Linked DNA regions of Homo sapiens. The gene in region 2 interacts genetically with the main gene of each other region. Each region holds a gene or a part of one and is shown on either strand. Other genes may lie near its edges.

Evidence for each region.
Region 1: changes in GTF2E1 (region 2) and SNRPD3 together harm fitness less than expected from each alone (positive genetic interaction), as found in Homo sapiens cells (one large-scale study listed by BioGRID).

The regions. Positions count from the first base shown.
Region 1 is NC_000022.11:24,569,438-24,573,089, forward strand, and holds part of SNRPD3 (small nuclear ribonucleoprotein Sm D3), read left to right. Parts: intron 1-2,478; coding exon 2,479-2,540; 3' UTR 2,541-3,652. UniProt on the Homo sapiens protein: Plays a role in pre-mRNA splicing as a core component of the spliceosomal U1, U2, U4 and U5 small nuclear ribonucleoproteins (snRNPs), the building blocks of the spliceosome.
Region 2 is NC_000003.12:120,766,661-120,770,312, forward strand, and holds part of GTF2E1 (general transcription factor IIE subunit 1), read left to right. Parts: intron 1-3,652.

The DNA.
Region 1 (3,652 bases), on a different chromosome or scaffold from region 2:
ACATGTTTTATATGTGTGTGAGGAAAAAAGTCAAACTGTGTTTTTCCTCTGCTCTCACAACACAACAATCAACAAAGACTTCTGTGACCAAGCAAGCAGTCAGTTCTGCAGTAGACACCAGCTGGGTGTCCTTCAGTTCTGACACTATCTACCTGGAGATAGCCTGAAAAACCACAGGTTGAGGGCTCGGTCCCACAAGACAGCCCCTGCACCCCCCACTATTATTCATAAGCACAGGCCTCCAGAACATCTGAATGGCTTCAAGCCAGGGTTCTCACGTCTCACTCCTTGGGTTCGATTAATTTGCTGGAGTAGCTCACACAACTCGGGAATCACATACTTAAATTTACTGGTTTATAACAGGATATTTTATAGGCTACAAATAAACAGCCACATGAAGAGATGCATAGGGTGAGATCTGGAAGGGTCGCAAGCACAAGAGCTTCTAGCCCCATGGAGTTTCCTCCCGGCACATGGATGAGTTCTTGTTCACCTTCCTGTCAGGCTGCGCATGATCAGCTGTCCCGAAGCTCCCCTAACCCTGCCCTCTTGGGCCTTTTATGGAGACTTTATTGGATAGTCATGATTAAAGGATGGACAACCATGTGGAAATGCCATTAGACAAAATGGGTGTGATCTAACACTAATAGACGGGGTTGGGAAACCCCGCGAGGCCTGTCCAGATTCTTTTTGGCCTCTCTCTGCAGCATTTGTTCCTCCAGGGTATAGGGCAGGACCTTTCTCTGGAGTGAGGTCTTATGACCCACAATCAGATTAGGGTCCTGCCTTGGGCAGGTGAAAGGAGGGCAGGAGAAGTTTCAAGAGAGAGATTCTGTCTCCTGAGTCCTGCTTCTGAGGCCTAAAGTGCCCCAATGTTATAACAAAAGACTATAACAAGGACTATAGGAGTTACGAGCTGGGAACCATAGATGAAAGCTCAAGTTTAAAGATGTAATAGTGTGAGGGGCCGGGCGCAGTGGCCCATGCCTGTAATCCTAGCACTTTGGGAGGCCGAGGTGGGCAGATCACGAGGTCAGGAGTTCGAGACCAGCCTGGCCAACACAGTGAAACCCCGTCTCTACTAAAAATACAAAAATTAGCTGGGCATGGTGGCAGGTCCCTGTAGTCCCAGCTACTCGGGAGGCTGAGGCAGGAGAATCGCTTGAACCCAGGAGGTGGAGGTTGCAGTGAGCCGAAATCGTGCCACTGCACTCCAGCCTAGGTGACAGAGCTAGACTCCATCTCAAAAAAAAAGAATATTTTATTTGTTCTTCAAAGCCTGTCTTCTCCTAGAACCCCTGGGTTACAGAGGAGAACAGCAGTCTTATCATGCTATTTATATGGAGTGTGTTTTCTTTTTGCTACTATGAAATAATTCTTTTTTTTTTTTTTTTTTTTTGGAGACTGAGTCTCCATCACCCAGGCTGCAGTGCGGTGGCTTGATCTCAGCTCACTGCCACCTCCTCCAACTCCCAGGTTCAAGTGATTCTCTTGCCTCAGCCTCCCAAGTAACTGGGATTACAGGCGCATACCACCACGTGCAGCTAATTTTTGTGTGTTCAGTAGAGAAGGGGTTTTGCCATGTTGGCCAGTCTGGTCTCAAACTTATGACCTCAAGTGATCTGCCTGCCTTGGACTCGCAAAGCCCTGGGGTTACAGACATGAGCCACTGCACCCAGCCTGAAATAATTATTTTCTCAGAAAAAAATACAAAAGATAATATAACCCTTCTCCCAGATCTAACACATGTTAACACTTAACTATATTTGTTTCAGAATTGAAAAAATTAATTCAGTGCATCTATAATGTTTTTCAGCTCACCCAAGGCCAGCCCCAAGGATTTGTCTTTTCTGTAGCTCTCAGACCACCTTCTTTGCCCTCAGCATGCTGCCTCCCAGCCTCTTGTAGAGAGCAGTGTGGGACTGGAAGGCAAGAGTGTGCTGCTAGCTCCTGCTTTGATGCCAGTCCCCAGCCCCTGCCCCTCCGTCTCCATCCCCCCTGTTAAATGCAGTGGCTGTCAGCTGGACGTGTTGGCTTATGCTTGTAATCCTGACACTTTGGGAGGCCGAGGTGGGTGGATCACCTGAGGTCAGGAGTTTAAGACCAGCCTGGCCAACATGGTGAAACCCTGTCTCTACTAAAAATACAGGAAATTAGCCGGGCGTTGTGGTTCACGGCTGTAGTCCCAGCTACTCAAGTAGGAGGCTGAGACATGAGAATCGCCTAATCCCAGGAGGTGGAGATTGCAGTGAGCCGAGATCATGCCACTGCACTCCAGCCTGGGTGACAGAGTGGGACTCCGTCTCAAAAAATAAAAAAAAAAAAAGGCGGGAGGTGGAAATGCAATGGCCAGGGTGGTGTTGGACCAGGTAACCCTTCAGAACCCTTCTAACTGGTGTCCTAGGGCCCTGGCTACTCTGTGCTATGAGCATTCACCGACCACACTGACCTGGCCTCATATTTTCTCTTCCCTTTCAGTGGCCGCAAGAGGAAGAGGACGTGGAATGGGACGTGGAAACATCTTTCAAAAGCGAAGATAATTTTCTAAGTTGAACAGAACTTTGTCCTTTTTTCTTTCAGGTTATCTGAGTTCATTGGAGTGGGTGCTTGTGCATATATGCTAGGTATCTTTTGCCATCTTTCTCTTTAGATCAGGGGAAATGTTTAAGCTAAATAAATCTGGGGGGTTTTTTGTTCTGTTTTGTTTTGTTTTCTTTGAGAAAATAAGGACTTTGTGTTCATTTGAAGTTTGCTTTGGCTAAATTTTGACACCCTGGGGGATGTCCTGGGAGAATGCCAGTACTTTGAAATAGCACAGCTATTGATGAGATTTTAAGCTGCTGTTCCTGGCCAGTTGCAGGTTAAGCCCCAGAAAAGTTCACCTTGGAGAAGCTCCGAGAACACACAGATTGTGTCTCATTCATCTTCAGACACAGGCACATAGTGTGGCACTTTGTTCAGTTAACATTTGTGGAGCTGTCATCAGCTCAGCTTTAACAACACAGGTGACTCTTTCCCTTGATAAAGTCATAGGTAATTCAGGGGCTGGGTGCGGCGGCTCACGCATGTAATCCCAGCACTTTGGGAGGCCAAGGCGGGCGGATCACGAGGTCAGGAGTTCGAGACCAGCCTGGCCAATATGGTGAAACCTCGTGTGTACTAAAAATAAAAAAATTAGCCGGGTGCGGTGGCATGTACCTGTAGTCCCAGCTACTCGGGAGGCTGAGGCAGAAGATTCGCTTGAACCCAGGAGGTGGACATTGCAGTGAGCAGAGATCATGCCACTGTACTCCAGCTTGGGTGACAGAGCGAGACTGCACCTCAAAAAAAAAAAAGTAATTCAGGGGATCCTAGTGGCCAGCTTCCTTGGCTCGTATACTGGCTACAACAAGTAGTTTTGTGGTGATTTGTGGAAACAGATTCTTGGGAGCATATCAGAGCATCTCAGCATTGATTGGCACATCCATAGTTGTTAATGTAGGAAGGGTGACCAGCAGCTCAGCACAGTGGCTTGCTTCCAGCACTCTGGGAGGCTGAGGTAGAGGATTGTTTGAGAGGAGTTCAAAACCAGCCCGCGAGACATAGTGAGACCCTGTCTCTACAAAAAATTCTAAAAATTAACTTGGCATGGTGGTGCACACCTGTAGTCCTC
Region 2 (3,652 bases):
CTCAGCTAGAAGTCACATTCCTTCTTTGAACTCCAAAACATTTATGTACTTTATTTTTTGCACTGATCCCTGATTGTTTTATCTCCAGACATCTTTCTTCCCTACTAAAGCTTCTTGCTGACTGGTTCTGTCTGTGTATGCCACCACCACTCTCTCAGTAGCGTGGGTGCCTGCTTGCTACATAGTATGTGCTGGGTTTCCGTGTCCTCCTGCCCCTTGCCACTTGCCCCTTCTGATTTCAGGAAAACTGATTTGCATTTTTACAATGCGTAGTGAAATGTATAAAAAATGCTGCTGGTATATTAAACTGGTCTTAAGTCATTTTCTGTAAAATGTCAAATTTCTTACTTTTCTTGCATTTTTTAGGGTCCCAGAAGAAAAATAAGAAATTCTACATTTGGCTTTGACAGGCTTCTCATTTATAACTAATGTTTTTGTGATAAACACAGGGCTCAGAGATGTCAGGCTAGCTTTTCCTTTTGTAATATTTGCTAGATGTGGTATTTATTGGGAGACTATTCTCCATGGGTCTCTCACATGTTATGCATGTCTTGGCAAGCAGAGATACAGACTGACTGCTTTTTTTCCTGGACTATCATTTTCAAGGATGTTTATATAACGAGCAGCCTTGCAAGACAGAGATAGTATTTCTCTTCAGAGCAAAGAGCAGGTTTGCTTATGGTCCAGTATAAAAAGTGTCTCCTTCCAGAGCATGTTTACATAGAGTTTATAGTAAGTAAGGATAATGCCACCCTCCAGTGCAAAGAATGGGCATGCTTATGCCCATTATAAAATATTTGAGTTCCTTTTAAGCTCAGGCTCTCTTTCCTGTAACACAACCCATTGCATGTGTAATTGTTACCTGGCCCTTCTATCGCACCCCATGGAAATTGGGGCATGGGGAACTGGCTTAAATACTGACACTGGCTACTGCTATTTCCTTGAGTAGTGAAGTTCTTTGTCTCTGACCTGGGGTCTTGTGTCTTCTGCCAGTATCCATGAAACTGGCAGAATAACTTGTTAGCTTACAAGTAGGGTAAAATCTCAGACCCTTCACAGTTCTTAGTAATAATGTTAAAGCTGCTGTTTTCATACCTGCAAAATCAGCCCTTCTGTAAGTAACTCCTGTTAAGTTTGGATGAGATTAGAATTTAGGTGCCTTATGACTATATACTTTATTTTTCCCCCTATTCTTTTTCATGAAAATAAATTACTCGAGTTAAAGGACTGTCATTCTGAGATTGTCCTTCTGTGAAATAATGATATTAGTGTTGTTCTCTTTCTCTCTTTTCCCCAAATAAAAGCACTGCTGTTTTATGAGGATGAGCTACACTGACAAGCATGTTGATTTGTTTACTTAAAGCTGAAGTTTGGAGTACATATTGTCTTAAAATGAGAAATGGGGTATTTGGGAGGACATTTTTTTAAAATTCGGGTATAACATGACTTTTTAATGATAAATTAGATAAATAATAAAACATGTTGGATAATGATAATGCTAAGGGAAAAGAAAATGAAAGAGGATACGATTGTTTGGGTGGACAAGACAGTTGAAATTTTAGATAATGTTGGCTACAGAAGGCCTTACTGGTGGCTTCTGAGTAAAGAACTGAAGTAAGTTTGGAGATGAGCCATGTGATTTTCTGGAGGGAAGGCATCTGGGTAGAGGGCACAGCAGTGCAAAGGCTCTGCAGCAGAGTGTGCCTGATGGGAGACATTGAGGAGGCCGGTTTGTGATGCTTTGAAAACAGATAATGAGAGGGTTGGAGTATTAACCTTTGTCTTAGCTGTGTTTCTATACTTTACCCCAGAGCATTTGCTTTTATGTTTATATATTAATCACCTTTCCATTTGAGAAATGAGATTCCTTTCTTTAAAAACATTTTGAAAACTACAGAACTAGATAACTTGTCTTCCAAACTATTCTTAGTTCTCATTGACAGTCTCTGTAGGTGCTTATTTTTCAACAGTCAATTTAAGTCCCAGTCTCACATTGGTGTGTTTTTTAATTCAGCAGGTATTCGAGAGCTATATTCAACCCTACTTTATGTGGTTTATTTTTAAGCCCCCACATGATTATATTCCTTGCTTCTGTTGAAGAGAAGAGGCTGAGACAGCTTGGAACAGTTGGAGAATAATATAAGATAACATTCTACCTAAAACCTTTCTAGCCAAGGTTGCTTCTTACCCTTTGTTACCAAATATAAAAGCTAGTTTTCAACTCTTGTTGGCCTCTTAATATTAGGACCATACATTTCCTTGAAACACCATCCTGTCACTCTGGTTGCACCATTTCTCTTTCTCAAGGATTCCTCATTCCTTGAGTTTATGCCTTAACTGCTTCTTCTCACTCTCCTTAATCTCTTCGGATGCTTCTATCTACTATATGGCTTCAGTTACCACCTATAGGTTGTTGATTCTCATATCTAAATTTGTAGTCTAAACCCCTCTCTTGAGCTGAATTGTTAGCATTTGTAATTAGTTGGCTTTTTACATATTCATTTTTATATTTAAAGCAATTTGATATCTTTTACCTAAAAAAAAAAAAAAAGCTAGTTCTTCCTCTCTTTACTTTGGTATAATAGTATTCTTGTCCAGTTGATTAAGTTATAATCTTTATGTTCGTGACCATTAGTCAAAAGCTATCAGGTACGCACCTGTAGTAAACAAAGTTAGGTTTATTGATGCTTTCTGCAGCAAGGGAAGCCACATACCATGGGGAAACCATGAAATGTCGGTAAGATGATGTTGGACAGACTTAGAGAATGTGGGCTTTTGTTGGGTAATTTTGGGGAGGATTCAGGGAAGTGATGAAGGTTTCCTTTGGATTGGATGCTGTGAAGAAGTGGGGATAATTCTATGATTGGGTATCTTCATAAATCTTATCTAGGAGGTGACAAGAACAGAGTGACGCTAAAACTAAATGGTAAAGAAGCAGCAGTCACTTGTGCAAGATGGGATTTTTTGTGGTTTGCATGGAGTCCTTGCTTTTGTCTGTTCTCAGACGCAATTCCACAGTGGCTTGGGTTTGCCTCACTTCCATCATAGTCTGATGTTAGTGATCTGTGAGATCTTGTTTGACAGAAAAATGCCACAGTCTAGCTGTGAGTGCTGAGCCACCTCCTAGCTGTGAAGGGCTGCATTTCTCTCTCTTTCTCACTTATTTGGGATAGATGTAGATTAGGTGGCATTTAGACAATAAGAAGATGTATTTTAGGGTATTTGAACAAATAATTTACATGCTATTGGCTATGTGTGAGGGGCAGTAAAGAAAATTATTATACTGGTAATGTATCAGTAGGATCTAGTGTTATGTTGAAGTAGAGATCACTTGGTTGTTTGTTCTTTATGTATCAATCATACATGGGGCCTTTTATAGCTAAATGTTTGAGTACTTAACTATTTGCCAGACACTAAGTACTTACATGTTCCCTTTTAATCTTTCAAGTAAGTTGAGTCAGAAAGGAAGGATGCATATTCCTGTCTTTGGGAATAAGAACCAAACTGGAAATCCAGGTGTGGCTAGTGGTGTAGACTGTTAAGTAATGTTTAAGAGTGTGAGTTTTAGCATAATAGATTGAATTGATTAGATACAAATGGTTAATAAATTTTAAAAAATAGCCTGTGACAATGTTCAGGATGACTAGAAACT